Homo sapiens: one gene and its partners. The protein of the gene in region 1 purifies or fractionates together with the protein of each later gene. This does not show direct contact. Each region holds a gene or a part of one and is shown in the gene's direction. Other genes may lie near its edges.

Region 1 (5,224 bases):
AGCCTGGGCGACAGAGTGAGACTCCATCTCAAAAACAAAAAAAAAAAAAAAAAAAGGAAAGAATCATAGATTTTTTTTTTTTTTTGGTATTAAGAGGAACAGGAATAAAATATAAGAAACATCTGTTTGTAAATTTTTAATGAAGAGAAAGAATATTTGATAAAACTTACTAGCATTTGCTGTGATTCATTAGTGTTTTTTAGGAGTTAATTGTGTCGAATAGTTACTGCATACCAGGAACTATGTTTAGAGCTGTACATACATTATCTCAATTAACCCAAATAACAGAATACCTACGGTTTACAGAAATAGAAATTGATTCTGCTTCTAACAGGTAAAATTGAGGTTCACACCCTGGGCTTTTGGACTCCAGAACACTTGCTATTTCTAGTACACAATAATGAAATAATCACAGCTGTAGAGATCATATTTCAAAATCTTATAGCCAAAAGTCACTCTTTAAGTATTATAAAATACTGAAAAAAATCCTACTTTTAAATTGCATTAAAGGTTTTGATTTAGAAGTATAAGCATCTCTTCTGTACTTGGGGCTTTGGTTCCAGGACCCCCAGGTATAACCAAAATCTGAGAATACAGAAGTCAAATGTTGGCCCTATGGAGCTTGGCATACAAGAAAAGTTGGTCCTCTCTATGCATGGGTTTCCCTGTGTTTTCTATCCACATTCAGTTGAAAAAAATGTGTGTTTATGTGGACCCATGCAGTTAAAAACCATGTTGTTCAAGGGCCAGCTTTACTTCAACTCCTTGTTACTTGTGAATATCATGCCAACGGAATTATTTTTTTCTCTGAAGATGCTTTTTCACGGATGCCTCTCATGAATGGCCTTATTGGATCCAGTCCTCATCTCCCACATAATTCTTTGCCACCTGGAAGCGGACTGGGAACTTTCTCTGCAATTGCACAATCCTCTTATCCTGATGCCAGGTACAAGCCTTATTTTCTATGGAAACTTAAATTGCACTAATTTCTGTTTGATTTATATATAAATTAGTCTGCTTAAATGATTGTGTATGATATTATTGTATGTTGCGTTTATTGTGGCTTTTGCTATAAATATGTTACTTTTAACTGTTTTGTAATAGGTTTTAATGAAAGCTATACTTGAACATATATTAAGAAGTTATTTTATGTTCATAAAGTAAAGATATTTATTTTTTCCCAGGGATAAAAATTCAGCCTTTAATCCAATGGCAAGTGATCCTAACAACTCTTGGACATCATCAGCTCCCACTGTGGAAGGAGAAAATGACACAATGTCGAATGCCCAGAGAAGCACGCTTAAGTGGGAGAAAGAGGAGGCTCTGGGTGAAATGGCAACTGTTGCCCCAGTTCTCTACACCAATATTAATTTCCCCAACTTAAAGGAAGAATTCCCTGGTAAGCCATGAATATATTATTTCTGTTTTACCAACATTTTCACATGTGCAATACCTTTTTTTTTTTTAACTGCAATAGAAAGGTAGCTTAACTAATTTTTGTCTATGATGACCCACAACATGAAGATTCCCTAGATGTCTAGAAACATCTTGCATTTTACTTTGTCCTAGACCCTGCATCCATCCTCATATTTCCCAAAAATTAGTTTCAATTAGTGAAATGGTCCGTTTTTCAGCTCCTAGCAGTACTTATTAATATGCAGAAATCCGTGTTATGTGATTCTTTAAAAAATTTCTAGAACCCAAACTATCATTTAATCAAAAATACTGCTAGGCTAAATCAGTGAATCCTAAATAGTGTTTTTATGAAACGAATTCAATATTGTCTTCCCTTCTTCCCCTCTCACTTTCCCTGACTGCCCAGCTATTACCACTGCCTCTTGAAAAAAACAGATGATAATAGTACAGTTTGTGAAAATTCTGATTAACCAGTGAATGAGAAATTTGGATTAATGAAATGTCAATTATTGAATATATGCAAGCAATGCGGTTTTATTATTTTGAGTTCATGGTATCAGACAAACTAGGATTGAAAAAGTTATTCAAACTCAGTTTTGCAATAGTTTCCCAGCTATCTATCAATACACAAACTCTTAAATTACTAGAGGGGTACCTGGAAGTGACTTTTCATTTGGATGACCCCTGTATTTAGGTACCTTTTTGGATTGGCGTCTTCATGGGACTTTATTCATTATGTATTGTAATAAATGAAATGCTTTTTATCTAACAATAGAAATCAGTGGTTTGATGCAGGGAGACCTGTGAAGGCAGTATCCCATTCTTCAGCCACTTTCTTTCCATGCTTACATTTGCTGTTTATGAACGTACATGGGTATGTTGTCATTTTGTGTCAGCACAAATTGTCCTTACAGCAGAGCTGTAACTTTTTTAAAAGTAATTTTCTTTAATAATTTTACTTTGTGATTCAAGAACCTCATGAAATACTGTGTTAAAGCTGTTGGTCTGTGAACTGATTTTTCATTTTCATTGGCTTTTTGGAAGCTTGCTTTCTTTTTGTAATGTGGAATAAATAATTTCTGTATTTATCATTAACTGTTGATCTTACCCAGGCTTCTTCATTTTGTATACCGTCATGACACTGAGTTTCATATAAATGGTTTGAACTCATTACTTTTCCATGTGTTTGTTGTCCACAAATGCTAGTGAGATGCTTATTTATGACTTTGTTTACTTCTGGTAGGTCAAATTGATAGATTTCTGTTTAGCACAGATGTTTTACAAACTTGTACTTTGGTTCTGGTGGTGTCTTACCACCAGAGGGAATTTATTATGTCTGGCTTGCATTTTTGCTACTTTGTCCCTTGAATCTAAAAACTTCCCAACTTTACAAGCTACGTTGTTAATAAGGCAGCACTTCATTTAGAAAACGTTTGTTTGGCCTACAGTGTGCCACGATCTTTGTTCTTTGTAAAAAACTTAATATAGGTCTATGACCTCATGAGAATACGGCCTGAATAAGATTAACTGTCAGCAGTTCATCAACATTCTTTATTACAACACATCATTAGCATGGCTCTGAGAAAGTGTTATACTCTGTTCTTTTGTTGCAGATTGGACTACTAGAGTGAAGCAAATTGCCAAATTGTGGAGAAAAGCAAGCTCACAAGAAAGAGCACCATATGTGGTATTTTAAGAAACTCCTCTATCTTTTAAATATTTAAATACAGTGCTTGAACCTTATTTGTATTAGGTTAATAAAAAACAAATTTCCATTTCAGAAAATGCTTGTTAGTACCTGTACAACAAGCAACTTTATTTTTAAAGTGATTTTCTAACTCCTTATGTCTTAATAGAGAGTGTGACATTTTTATAAGCAAGTTAATAGAACCAAAACGTTGAAGATTGAAAATCAGCTGTTTTAGGGGGGAAGGAGTAATTCATTTCACTTTAAAATTGTTTTATCTCTTCAGCAGAGGTACAGTTGGCCGTCTGTATCCATGAGTTCTATATCTGTGGATTCAACCAACCATGGATCAAAAATATTTTGGAAAAACATCTATACTGAACTTGTACAGACTCTTTCCCTTGTCATTGTTTTTAAAACAATGTAACAACGATTTACATAGCATTTATATTGTGTTAAGTATTACAAGTAATCTAAAGATGACTTAAAGTATACAGGAGGGGCCAGGCACAGTGACCCACACCTGTAATCCCAGCAGTTTGAGAGGCCAAGGTGGGCAGATGGCTTTGAGCCCAGGAGTTCAAGACCAGCCTGGGCAACATAGCCAAAACCTCATCTCTATAAAAAATGAAAAAATTAGCTGGGTATGATGGCGCATGCCTGTAGTCTCAGCTACTTGAGAGACTTGAGAGGTTGAGGCTTCAGTGAGCCAGAATTGTACGACTGCATTCCAGCCTAGGTGACAGAGCAAGACCACCCTGCTAGGTCAAAAAATAAAAAGGGAGAAAGTATACAGGAGGATATGTGTAGGTTATATGCAAATACTGTGACATTTTCTATAAGGGACTTGAGCATCTGTGGATTTTGGTATCTGCAGGGAATCCTGGAACCAATACCCCATGGATACAGAGGGACAACTGTACTAAATTTGGAGACTGGATTGGCATGCCTCAGTGTCTTCCACAGTCACCTCTTTTCTTGTTAGGTTTCATAGAGAATCTTTGTGCATCTTGAAAGAGAAATATTTAGACATGTTTAAAGAGTTTTTGACACATGATCTTTGCCATGAACTATTAGGTAATTTTATAAGATTCGCAGTTCATATGGTAAATTATTTTCTCCCAAAGAGCCAAATTAAGATTGTCAGCTGGAACCAAATCCTTGCTTTCGTTTTAAAGCATATTAAATCTGTATTATTGTTGGAAAATATATATAGTTATTTTCCAGCTTGTTCCCCAGTGCACATATTTTCAGTTACAGTGATTATTTTGGATAGAGCATATATGTGTGTATATGCTCTATCACATATATATATATAGATGTGTTAATATGCTGTGTTTTATTTTGACTTGAATTAGGTAATGACAGAATTTTTAAATTTTTAAGTGATTTCTTTAATGATACGTTTCAAATATCCAGATTTTTTTTTTTTTAAGACTGATTGGATATTTTTCCTTTTTTCTAAATTTTTTTTTTTTTTTTTTTGAGATGGAGCTTCACAGTTGTTGCCCAGGCTGGAGTGCAATGGTGCGATCTCGGCTCACTGCAACCTCTGCCTTCCAGATTCAAGCGATTCTCCTGCCCCAGCCTCCCAAGTAGCTGGGATTACAGGCATGTGCCACCATGCCTGGCTGATTTTTCTTTTTCTTTTTCTTTTTTTTGAGACAGAGTTTTGCTCTTGTTGCCCAGGCTGGAGTGCAATGGCGCAATCTTGGCTCACCACAACCTCCGCCTCCTGAGTTCAAGTGATTCTCCTGCCTCAGCCTCCCGAGTAGCTGGGATTACAGGCATGTGCCACCACATCTGGCTAATTTTGTATTTTTAGTAGAGATGGGGTGTCTCCATGTTGGTCAGGCTGGTGTCGAACTCCCGACCTCAGGTGATCCACCCGCCTCAGCCTCCCAAAGTACTGGGATTACAGGTGTGAGCCACTGCGCCTGGCCTAATTTTGTATTTTTAGTAGAGGTGGGGTTTCACCATGTTGGTCAGGCTGATCTCAAACACCTGACGTCAGGTGATCCACCCGCCTTGGCCTCCCGAAGTGCTGGGATTACGAGCATGAGCCACCATGCCTGGCCCCAGCCCCTTCTTTCTAAATTGAAGGAGACATAATTTCTAAGG
Region 2 (3,500 bases), on another chromosome or scaffold:
TCGGACACCGAGCTGCAGATGGAGGGCAGCCCCATCTCCTCCTCCTCCTCCCAGCTCTCCCCACTGGCCCCCTTTGGCACCAACTCCCAGCCAGGCTTCCGGGGCCCCACGCCCCCCTCGTCACGCCCCTCCAGCACCGGCCTGGAGGATATCAGCCCAACACCCCTCCCAGACTCCGACGAGGACGAGGAGCTCGACCTGGGCCTTGGGCCTCGGCCTCCACCTGAGCCAGGCCCCCCGGACCCTGCTGGGCTTCTGAGCCAGACAGCTGAGGTGGCCTTGGACCTGGTTGGAGACAGAACCCCGACCTCAGAGAAGATGGATGAGGTACCACCGTGTCTGTCCATCTGTCTGGGACTGGTTTTGTCTATCTTGTATCTCCCTTTCCCCCTTCAAGCATTTAGCATGACTAGCTAAGATGCGGAAGCAATGGGGCTAGGAAAGCCAATATAACAGGTGGAACTTACAGAATAAAAAGGGGATGCAGAAAACACCAGGGGCTGTGATTGAGCAATTGGTTTGGCAATGAGCTCCCTAGCAGCCGTGGAGAGAAGGAAAGCATGGCCTAGTTCTGATGCTCTCCTTGTTAGGTAAGAAGTCAGCTTTTCCTAGGGATAAATTCTGGCCTGAGCTGCTTTGGTAGGCGTTTGCTGAGAGTTCAGAGAGTATGAGCTGTGGGGATGGCTCTTGGTCCCCTTGTCTGTTGCGTGGCTTGGGAATGATCAGGGAGAGTCCTGGCCCTCAGGCAGAGGGGAGGAGAGAGATTGGCCAGAATACTGTGCTGGGCTAAGTGGGGTGAAGCCCCGGAGCATTGTCTCCTAGAGCCTGGTGCCCTCTGAAGAGGGGGAAACCATGGCAGACAGGGAGGGTGCTGGTTTCCCTTCTTCTCCCACTGGCTCCAGGGATGAAGGAGTTAAGAGCTAACTTGGGGTGGGGGTGGGGTGCCATGTAGCCAGAAAAAGGCAAAGTTGACCATCCCCCACCCTCTCCTCAGGTCATGGGGTCTCGTTGCCTAAACCTCCAGCCTCAGGAAGTCCCGCCCAGGGGTTGGGGGTGAGGGTGCCACGTGCCAGGTTCCCCTGGGAGGGTGTTGGGTCATCTTCCTTGGCTCCACTCCTCCTTCTCGGTCCAGGCACCTGCCTTGGAGCCGTAGTCCCGGTGGGCATGGGCAGTCAGGGGCTTAGACAGAGCTCTGCGTCCCTGTGGGCGGAGGGGAGGAGGACTGCCCCCTTCTTGGGCCCTTTGATTAGGCGGGTCTGGCTGCATCAGGGAGGAACGAGAGGAACTTGGCTTGCCTGGGAGGGTGCTGCAGGTGGCTGGGGCTCCAGGGGGCCTCCAAGCAGTTCTGGGGAAGTGGTTTCTGGCATCAAGGGGTCCAGGCAGGGGGCCTTGGCAGGGGGCGTTGACAGGTGTGCAGCTGTAGGGGGGCCGCCGGCCCTGGCACCCGTCTCCTCCGCTCCGTCTAGGCTGCCTGGGGTGAGGAGTGTTTACCATGCTGACCACGGTCCAGGGCTGAGAGGCCCGCAGTGGCTGGAGCGAAAGGCAGGCTGAGGCCCCGGGAGCGAGGGTCTGGGACTGCCCGGCCGCCAGCGCAGGGAGTCGCCGAGTGCCGGGAAGCTCCGGGCCGGCCCGCGGGCGCCCCCTGCTGGCGCCGGGGAATAGCGCCTGGGCTTTCTGCGGCCGCGCGCAGTGCGGGGAGCTGGACCCCGTCCCATCCTAGGTGGGGGAGCGGCGCAGGCGGGGCCAGCCGAGGGTGCAGGGGGGGCTTTTCTTCTAAACAGTGGCTGGTCGTTAAAAGTTCAGGCTCAAGTTCTTGAGTCCTGCCAAGTCACTTACTGGTTATGTGACCCTGGAAAAGGCACTTTTGCCTTTCTGAGTCTCAGTTTCGTCATCTGCCAAATGGGCCTGTGAGAGTCCCTGCAGCACAGGACCTCAGCTTAAGTGAGGTGCCGCACAGGATGCTCCCGGCACCGCCAGGCCTGCTGGACTCCCAGTTCTCAGCAAATTCCTGCCGCTTCTCACCCCGAGACTGCTGGGCAGAGGGAGGGGCAGGGCCGGCCGGGGCTGGAGCGCAGGATCTGCCTCCCTGTGATTGGCTGGCGGCGGCGGCCCGGGTTAACCCTCTGTGTGCCGCGGCGCGCTGTGCTCGGCTCTGTCCAGGACTGATCTGGGGAGTGCTCTCTGAGGATCCACCCGAGCCCGTCTGTCTCTTCTTGATGTGCATGGGGATCCTGAGAAGGAGAGTGTGTGCGTGCGTGCGTGTGTGTGTGTGTATGTGTGCACAGAGGGGACCTGGTAAAGTCCAGAGCTTCCTGCCGCTGCCTTAGTTTGGGTAGTCTCCGTCCTCCTACCCCGCTACCTGCAGTTTTCCTCTGAGGCCTTCCTCACCTGTAGTCTGACCTCTGATCTTGCAACTTGCACAGACTCCACCTCCACCCCCACTCCCCCTCAGCCTTCAAAGGTCCCCCCACCCCAAGTCCAGACCTGTCCACTCGGCTCCCTAAAGCCCCACGCCCATCCTTGACACCTCCCACATTTACCCCTCACCACCGCCCTGGATCCCAGCTGCAGCCCCGCACTGGGCAGGTCCTGGGCTCCAGACCTTCTTCTGACTGGCTGTGCCGCGGGGCCACGGCTGAGGCTCTGAGTGTGTTTATTAACTGTCAAATGGGTCGGAGCAGAGCCCCCCGCCCTGTGAGGTTATCTTTCGGATAAAAAATGAGGCAGCCGTCTGCAGCGCTTAGCCCCACGCGGGCCCACACTGATTGTGCAGTCACGAGACTAGGTGAAAAGAGTAATCAAGGAAAAATAAATAACAACACACTTCCTGTTTATGGGCCTTAGTGCTGCTAAACCCCCGCTCCAATGTCACCTTTCCTGCCTGGCCGTCTGCCGCAGAGTGAGGACAGCAGGGTGACTGAGAGCACAGGCTGCAGAACCACTTCCTGGTTCAAATCCCGGCTCCATCTCTTCTTGGCTGTGTGGCCTTGGGCAGGTTACTTAAATTCTCTGTGCCCCAGTTTCCTCGTGGGGCAAAAATGGAGTTGAAAATAGGGCTGTTCTGAGGATTAGCTGAGTTAATAAATGTGGAGCGTTTAGAAAGGCCCTGGCACATAAGAGACACTATGGAAGTGGCAACTATTTCTGCACACAAGTTGCAACAGAATCTCTGAAATTGCAACAGTTTCATCCTCTGTGCCCCACCCGTCTCCCTGCCTTCTTTCTCTCCCTCACGTTTCCCGTATTCACCCTCATCATCCTTTTGCCTTTTCCTGCTGGCTCCGCTCCACAAGAGTAAGATGTTTGCCTGCCTCTTCAACTTTGTGTCCCCAGCACCTAGACCAGTGCCTGGCACACAGGTACTGAGCAAATGTTTGTTGAATTGGAATGAATGAATGAATTCTAGTGGTAACTCCATGAGGCAGGGACTATGATGCCCATTTTGCAAATGAAGACGCTGAGGCTTGGAGAGGCTGAATGGCTTGCACTGGGTCACACAG
Region 3 (3,500 bases), on another chromosome or scaffold:
AGTCAGGAAGGGTCTTGCTCTATCGCCCAGGCCAGAGTGCAGTGGCGCAATCTCTGCTCACTGTAACCTCTGCCTCCGGGCTGAAGCGATCTTCTCACCGCAGTCTCTCTTGTGTAGCTGAGACTACAGGCACATGCTACCACGCCTGGCTAATTTTAAAATTTTTTTTGTAGAAATGAGTTTCACTGTGTTGCCCAGGCTGGTCTTGAACTCCTGGGCTCAAACAATCCTCCCACCTTGGCCTCCCAAAGTGGCTGGGATTACAGACATGAGCCACCAGCTGTGGCCAGCGGAGGTATTTTTTTTTTAAGAGATGAGACCCAAACTCCATGACAAAATAAATTTATCATGCCCTGAGTTTATTTGGCAACTCAATAACAGTTGCTTTTTACATATCAACCAGATGGGTGACTAGATTTTAAGCTCGTTGAGGGCAGATATTATAATTTGTGTGTCCCCATAGCCTGGTGTTTGCTAGGCAACCAGTAGATAAATGAATGATTGAATTTACTGAAAAATAAAAGGCTGTATCTTTGGGTAAACTGCACTTCACTGGATAAGAGCTAAATTCTTTTCATGTGTGCTAATATCAGGTTCCAAGAGAGAGAAGGTCATCAACAGCAAAGCCAGAGGTGGAGCACCCTGAGCCAGATCACAGCAAAAGGTAACATTCAGTGCCTAACAGCATAAAGAGTGCAGGGGGAAATGCCACGTTTCTGTAACAGCAAAATGGGAGTTTGTTTAAATGAACAACCACTAGTGAAAGAGATAGGTAAGTTGGACTCTTACTATCTAAATTCAGATTTCATCACTGATTTGCCTCTGTTGCTCTGAAATTTCCTTTTTTCTTTGGGCGTAGTAGTTGCCTTTTCTAGGATGAAAGCACTAACATTCTCCTCCTCCAAAGGGATAGTTTTAGTAATAACTTCAGTATTTGCTTATTTGTTTTTGAGGTTTTCTTTAGAAGGATGTGTGGCAGTGGTCTATTAAAAAAATTAAGCACCAGTGACTCTTGAACAACTGCCTGAGTAAAATTGAATAAAGCAAGTTAAATTGTATTCAAATTCCTGTTGAAATTATTTGTGAAATATTTTAGATTAAAACTTTCAGAAAATTTAATTAACGTTTGGCTAGCCATGAAAAACTTTAAAAAGACACCTTTTAAATTGTCTTGTGTTTTATTATCAATCAAGGAATGAAACATATTTAAAGGAAGAATGATCATCACCCAGTATCCCATTATCGTGATGATTGCTTTATTCATTGTTTTGATGTGTATGCAAATTTTATGTAGCGTAGTTGTGTTCACAGATAGGATTTGGTAGTGTACTTTCTTCTACTTAGTTTGTTTCATAAACATTTTCTCTGTATTTTAATCTTCATAATTATCCTTTGGAAGAGGACTTGTGGCTTTTATCTTTTACTTTTCATTATGGGCATTTTCAAACATAATAAAAATAGAAAAACAGTATAAGCCCACATGTATCCATGACCAGCCTCAACAGTTATCAACACAATTCCTCTTGTTTGATTTGTTCTTCCCTCTTCTTCAACTTTGAGATTAATTCATGTTTTTATTTTATTTATTTTTGCTGGAACATTCTGAAGCAAACTGTAAATATCCTTACAATTGCTGCTATATCTAGTTTTCACTATTAAGAAGTCTTAAGGAACAACTTTCTAGACTTTTTCCGTTTTAGGATAAATTCCTGGGAGTGAATTTATGGTTCAGGGTTCAAACAGTTTTATTGATCTTGAAATGTACAGAATTCTCAATTTGCCTGTTTCTTGAAGCTTCAGCCTATATGATTTCTGGGGGCTTTGAAAATTCATTCATTTTACCCACTGGAAATCATCTTGTATTGCTCAAATTATTTATCAAACCAAAATTTAATTTTATAAAAAGCAGATGTGTCTACTGATGCAATGTAACAATAGGTTTTCTTGGGTGAAAGAGAAAGCCAGGCCCGGCACAGTGGCTCATGCCTGTAATCGCAGCGCTTTGGGAGGCTGAGGCAGGTGGATCACCTGAGGTCAGGAGTTCGAGACCAGCCTGGCCAACATGGTAAAACCCAGTCTCTACTAAAAATACAAAAATTAGCCAAGTGTGGTGGCGTGCGCCTGTAATCCCAGCTACTCGGGAGGCTGAGGTGGGAGAATCGCTTGAACCCGGGAGGCGGAGGTTGCAGTGAGCCTAGATCACGCCATTGCACACCAGCCTGGGCCATAAGGGCAAGACTCTGTCTCAAAAAAATAAAAAATTAAAAAAAAAAAAAGGAGAAAGCCAAATGGCATAGGTGGTAGGAAAAGTGGTGACCAAGTAATAATAGCTCATACTTCTTGAAGACTGTGTGTCAGGCATTATTATACACCTTTTAGTGTATCATCTCATCTCAACCTGATGAGAATGGATGCCATTATTGTCCCCATTTTGCAGATGAGGATTCAGTTACTAAGAGATGAAGTAACTTGCTCAGGTGACACAGAACTTGAACCCAGGCAATTTGACCCTGGCGTCTATGCTGTAACCCCAGTTGATCAGATCGCATAGCTTCAGGTTTCTAGTAAAACACAGTAATTGTTTTTAGGATTATGGAAAGTAAAGCTTGTTAGAGGAGAGCTCTGAGCCCTTAGTATTTCGAATGAAATTTTACTTAATAGGTTTGGATTTTATTTGACCGATAACCAGAAAGCCTTTTTCCCTTTATCTAGTAATGGGTAGTTTTGATGTTTTCTGTTTATTCTGTCAAGTGTTATTGCACAGGACCCAACAGCCCAATGCCATTAGGAAAATAAAAATTGTCAAAGAACTACATCAGCATCGCGTTTGAAAGCAGTTTTCTTTTCTTAAAGAAACAGCATACCAATTGTGACAGAGCAGCCCCTCATCTCTGCTGGAGAAAACAGAGTGCAAGTACTGAAAAATGTGCCATTTAACATTGTCCTTCCCCATGGCAACCAGCTGGGCATTGATAAGAGAGGCCATCTGACAGCTCCAGATACGACAGTCACTGTCTCCATAGCAACGATGCCTACCCACTCCATCAAGACAGAAACCCAGCCACATGGCTTCGCTGTGGGAATCCCCCCAGCAGTGTATCATCCTGAGCCCACTGAGCGGGTGGTGGTTTTCGATCGGAATCTCAATACTGACCAGTTCAGCTCTGGTGCTCAAGCCCCAAATGCTCAAAGGCGAACTCCAGACTCGACCTTCTCAGAGACCTTCAAGGAAGGCGTTCAGGAGGTAAGGAAACAAAAACATCTTCCTAAGACGCCTGCGTGTTTGTATAAGTATTGGGTTCCACCTTTTCCTTGTTATGTAAGCATGAAACTCAGCCTGAAATGAATGGATTAGGAATAAAAGATTTTTTTTTTAAGAGAAAAGGCCCATGGGTATAATTTGTAAACTAAACCTATACAACCAGAAGTTATTATCAAGGATGCAAGGCTAATCTTACCAGCAGCTGAGTTAACAATTATGATTTCAGCTAAGGGATTTG
Region 4 (3,996 bases), on another chromosome or scaffold:
CTGGTCACCTTCGGGAAAAACCGGCTTGGCAAAGGCTCCCCCGAGGGCACGCGTTTCCCGGACAGTGAGGCAGGACCTAAACTCTTCCGTTAACACTACATTTTTCGCATTTCTGCAGTGTTTGCACTCTCAGGCCCCACCATTTCCCCGCATCTCTTAGGGAGAAGTTCTCGACGTCCCACCTCCCCTGGAAGGGTGCTGCTCCCAGAGACCTTCAGGCCAATGGCCCAATCTCAGTGCCCTCAGGGGAGAGGGGGGTGCAGAAAAACAGCCTGGGTCACAAAAGAGGTGCGAGGGCTGTGAGATCCCGGAGGCACCGACGGGAAGCGAGACGGAGAACAGGAGGGCAGGACGGGCTGGAGGTGGGGGATACTGCAGATGGAGGGAGCCACGGTGGGGGAGGGCGTGGACCTGACCGTCCTGGCACAAGGCGGTCGGGTGCAGACCTCCAGGCCCTCCGGGTTAAGGTGCCGCCCAGAGCCCTCAGGCCGGGGGCGCACGGAAACCACAGGCAGGGTGCGCGTGGAGGGACGGGGAAAGCGGGGCGGGTTGGGGAAGGCGCCCCGGGAACCTGAACCTCCCACCCCGCCTCAGTCTCGACCACTCCTTAAGCCCCACCCCGCCCCAGGTAAGGCGCAGTCCACCCCCATTCCCAGTAGATTAACGCACAGGTGGGGGCGCGCTCGGGACATAGCTGCGCTAGGGGACAGCGCGCCCAGCCCAGTCGCGGGGGCGAGGAGCAGGGCGGGGCCCAGCAGGAACCCAGCTTTGTTAGCGATGCTCCCCGTGAGCCACGCGCCACGCGTACGCGCTTCCTCAATGGGGCCGGGCGTGGAGCCGCGCCCTGCGCGATTGGCCAAACGGGTGGCCCACGATTGGCTGAGACCCTGGCCCCCGCCTCCTCGGCCCCAGGAGGGTGGGGCGTGGGTGTGGGCTGCGCGGCGCGTGCTGCCCCCGGGGATCTTGCGCGCCTCCCGAACAGCCGTGTTGTCGCCAGGGCCGCGCCTTCCCTCCCACAGCGCGCGCTGCGCGTGCGAAGGTCTGGCGGCTCTTGGGACTGGCGGGGCTGCGCGCGGGGTTAGGGTGGGGGTACGGGAAGGCTCAACCCAGGACCTGCGTACCTTGCTTTGGGGGCGCACTAAGCACCTGCCGGGAGCAGGGGGCGCACCGGGAACTCGCAGATTTCGCCAGTTGGGCGCACTGGGGATCTGTGGACTGCGTCCGGGGGATGGGCTAGGGGGACATGCGCACGCTTTGGGCCTTACAGAATGTGATCGCGCGAGGGGGAGGGCGAAGCGTGGCGGGAGGGCGAGGCGAAGGAAGGAGGGCGTGAGAAAGGCGACGGCGGCGGCGCGGAGGAGGGTTATCTATACATTTAAAAACCAGCCGCCTGCGCCGCGCCTGCGGAGACCTGGGAGAGTCCGGCCGCACGCGCGGGACACGAGCGTCCCACGCTCCCTGGCGCGTACGGCCTGCCACCACTAGGCCTCCTATCCCCGGGCTCCAGACGACCTAGGACGCGTGCCCTGGGGAGTTGCCTGGCGGCGCCGTGCCAGAAGCCCCCTTGGGGCGCCACAGTTTTCCCCGTCGCCTCCGGTTCCTCTGCCTGCACCTTCCTGCGGCGCGCCGGGACCTGGAGCGGGCGGGTGGATGCAGGCGCGATGGACGGCGGCACACTGCCCAGGTCCGCGCCCCCTGCGCCCCCCGTCCCTGTCGGCTGCGCTGCCCGGCGGAGACCCGCGTCCCCGGAACTGTTGCGCTGCAGCCGGCGGCGGCGACCGGCCACCGCAGAGACCGGAGGCGGCGCAGCGGCCGTAGCGCGGCGCAATGAGCGCGAGCGCAACCGCGTGAAGCTGGTGAACTTGGGCTTCCAGGCGCTGCGGCAGCACGTGCCGCACGGCGGCGCCAGCAAGAAGCTGAGCAAGGTGGAGACGCTGCGCTCAGCCGTGGAGTACATCCGCGCGCTGCAGCGCCTGCTGGCCGAGCACGACGCCGTGCGCAACGCGCTGGCGGGAGGGCTGAGGCCGCAGGCCGTGCGGCCGTCTGCGCCCCGCGGGCCGCCAGGGACCACCCCGGTCGCCGCCTCGCCCTCCCGCGCTTCTTCGTCCCCGGGCCGCGGGGGCAGCTCGGAGCCCGGCTCCCCGCGTTCCGCCTACTCGTCGGACGACAGCGGCTGCGAAGGCGCGCTGAGTCCTGCGGAGCGCGAGCTACTCGACTTCTCCAGCTGGTTAGGGGGCTACTGAGCGCCCTCGACCTATGAGGTAACAGCCGGGAGGCAGGGAGGAGGGAGGGCCGGGGGCCGGGGTGGAGGGACGGGGTGGGCAGGCCCGGCGGGTCGCGCCCCCAGGAGCCCGCGGAGCCGAGCGCCAGGCCCGAGCGATGGCTTCGATTTCGCTCACTCTTCATTTCCCCCAAAGTTTTTCAAGCCCGTGCAAGACCGGCGTTTGTTTGTCCGGGATTGCAAAACTTCCCCTCGCGGCTCAGCCGCCGACGAGGGAGGGGTAGACGAGGGGAGGGGAGCGGCCGTCGGGCCGTTGAGGTCTCTAGTGCTGGCGGATCCTGGGGCAGATTGGGGTGCTGGAGGCGGGGTGACTTTGCATTGCAAATCGCGCTCCCGGGCCGGGGCGGCAGAAATGAGTCGGCGGGCGCGGAGCCCTGACTCACCGCGGCTCCGAGCGCCCGCCCCGCCCCCGCCGTGTCTCAGACCGAGTCGCGGCACCCACGGACTCAAGACTCCAAAACCAACCGAGCAAACGAAACTGCCGACTTCGCTTGGGGGAGGTGCGGGCAGGGCCGGCCCGGGCGGGGTCTGCCCCGGGCCCGCGCCCGCGTTGACGCGCGTTTGGTTCCCCACCTTCCCCCCGCAGCCTCAGCCCCGGAAGCCGAGCGAGCGGCCGGCGCGCTCATCGCCGGGGAGCCCGCCAGGTGGACCGGCCCGCGCTCCGCCCCCAGCGAGCCGGGGACCCACCCACCACCCCCCGCACCGCCGACGCCGCCTCGTTCGTCCGGCCCAGCCTGACCAATGCCGCGGTGGAAACGGGCTTGGAGCTGGCCCCATAAGGGCTGGCGGCTTCCTCCGACGCCGCCCCTCCCCACAGCTTCTCGACTGCAGTGGGGCGGGGGGCACCAACACTTGGAGATTTTTCCGGAGGGGAGAGGATTTTCTAAGGGCACAGAGAATCCATTTTCTACACATTAACTTGAGCTGCTGGAGGGACACTGCTGGCAAACGGAGACCTATTTTTGTACAAAGAACCCTTGACCTGGGGCGTAATAAAGATGACCTGGACCCCTGCCCCCACTATCTGGAGTTTTCCATGCTGGCCAAGATCTGGACACGAGCAGTCCCTGAGGGGCGGGGTCCCTGGCGTGAGGCCCCCGTGACAGCCCACCCTGGGGTGGGTTTGTGGGCACTGCTGCTCTGCTAGGGAGAAGCCTGTGTGGGGCACACCTCTTCAAGGGAGCGTGAACTTTATAAATAAATCAGTTCTGTTTACCAGTGGCTCCTATCACCTACACTTCCCAGGTGACGGCCAGACTTCCGTGGTCACTACTCCTCAAACCCTGCTGCCTCCTCCGTAGGGTGGGTCTGGGTGAGATCTGGAGTGCAGCCAGGCCGTTGATAGCGGAGCCATTGGGACACCTTGTGAGGCTGGGGGCATCCTCCAGGAGGTGGTGGGCTGGTGGGTTGTCCAGACAGGGCTACTCGCTGGCTTGGAAGCTGCAGGCTGGAGGCTGCTGACCCATCCCGAGGGCTGGGGTAAGTGCTGGGTGTGGGGCTAGGCTGAGGTGGTCTGACCAGAGAGCACCGGCTGTGGGGCTGAGGGCATGGGCTCCTGCGCAGGCCACCACGCTCAGATCTCCACTAACGTGGCAGCTGGGCAGCCCAGGGCAAGTGGGTTAACTTGCAAATGGGTTTGACCAGACCCACCTCAACGGCCTCTGGGAGGAGTTAGTGAGAGGTGCCTGGAGGCTGCCCTCTCGCTAGCTTTGGGT

What was found. Proteins that work in one complex are often made in the same cells at the same time.
Region 2: the proteins of KMT2C (region 1) and SETD1B purify together in Homo sapiens (affinity purification with mass spectrometry, with the first as the bait; one large-scale study listed by BioGRID). This does not show direct contact.
Region 3: the proteins of KMT2C (region 1) and GRHL1 purify together in Homo sapiens (co-immunoprecipitation; one large-scale study listed by IntAct). This does not show direct contact.
Region 4: the proteins of KMT2C (region 1) and ASCL2 purify together in Homo sapiens (affinity purification with western blotting, with the first as the bait; one study listed by BioGRID). This does not show direct contact.

Annotation. Positions count from the first base shown.
Region 1 is NC_000007.14:152,183,437-152,188,660, reverse strand, and holds part of KMT2C (histone-lysine N-methyltransferase 2C), read left to right. Parts: intron 1-813; coding exon 814-946; intron 947-1,184; coding exon 1,185-1,399; intron 1,400-3,029; coding exon 3,030-3,103; intron 3,104-5,224. UniProt on the Homo sapiens protein: Histone methyltransferase that catalyzes methyl group transfer from S-adenosyl-L-methionine to the epsilon-amino group of 'Lys-4' of histone H3 (H3K4).
Region 2 is NC_000012.12:121,810,509-121,814,008, forward strand, and holds part of SETD1B (histone-lysine N-methyltransferase SETD1B), read left to right. Parts: coding exon 1-327; intron 328-3,500. UniProt on the Homo sapiens protein: Histone methyltransferase that catalyzes methyl group transfer from S-adenosyl-L-methionine to the epsilon-amino group of 'Lys-4' of histone H3 (H3K4) via a non-processive mechanism.
Region 3 is NC_000002.12:9,958,193-9,961,692, forward strand, and holds part of GRHL1 (grainyhead-like protein 1 homolog), read left to right. Parts: intron 1-593; coding exon 594-664; intron 665-681; exon of another isoform or gene 682-772; intron 773-2,853; coding exon 2,854-3,244; intron 3,245-3,500. UniProt on the Homo sapiens protein: Transcription factor involved in epithelial development. Binds directly to the consensus DNA sequence 5'-AACCGGTT-3'.
Region 4 is NC_000011.10:2,267,998-2,271,993, reverse strand, and holds ASCL2 (achaete-scute homolog 2), read left to right. Parts: upstream 1-1,405; 5' UTR 1,406-1,661; coding exon 1,662-2,243; 3' UTR 2,244-2,261; intron 2,262-2,867; 3' UTR 2,868-3,496; downstream 3,497-3,996. UniProt on the Homo sapiens protein: Transcription factor. Binds to E-box motifs 5'-CANNTG-3' in the regulatory elements of target genes, probably as a heterodimer with another basic helix-loop-helix (bHLH) protein such as the transcription factor TCF3.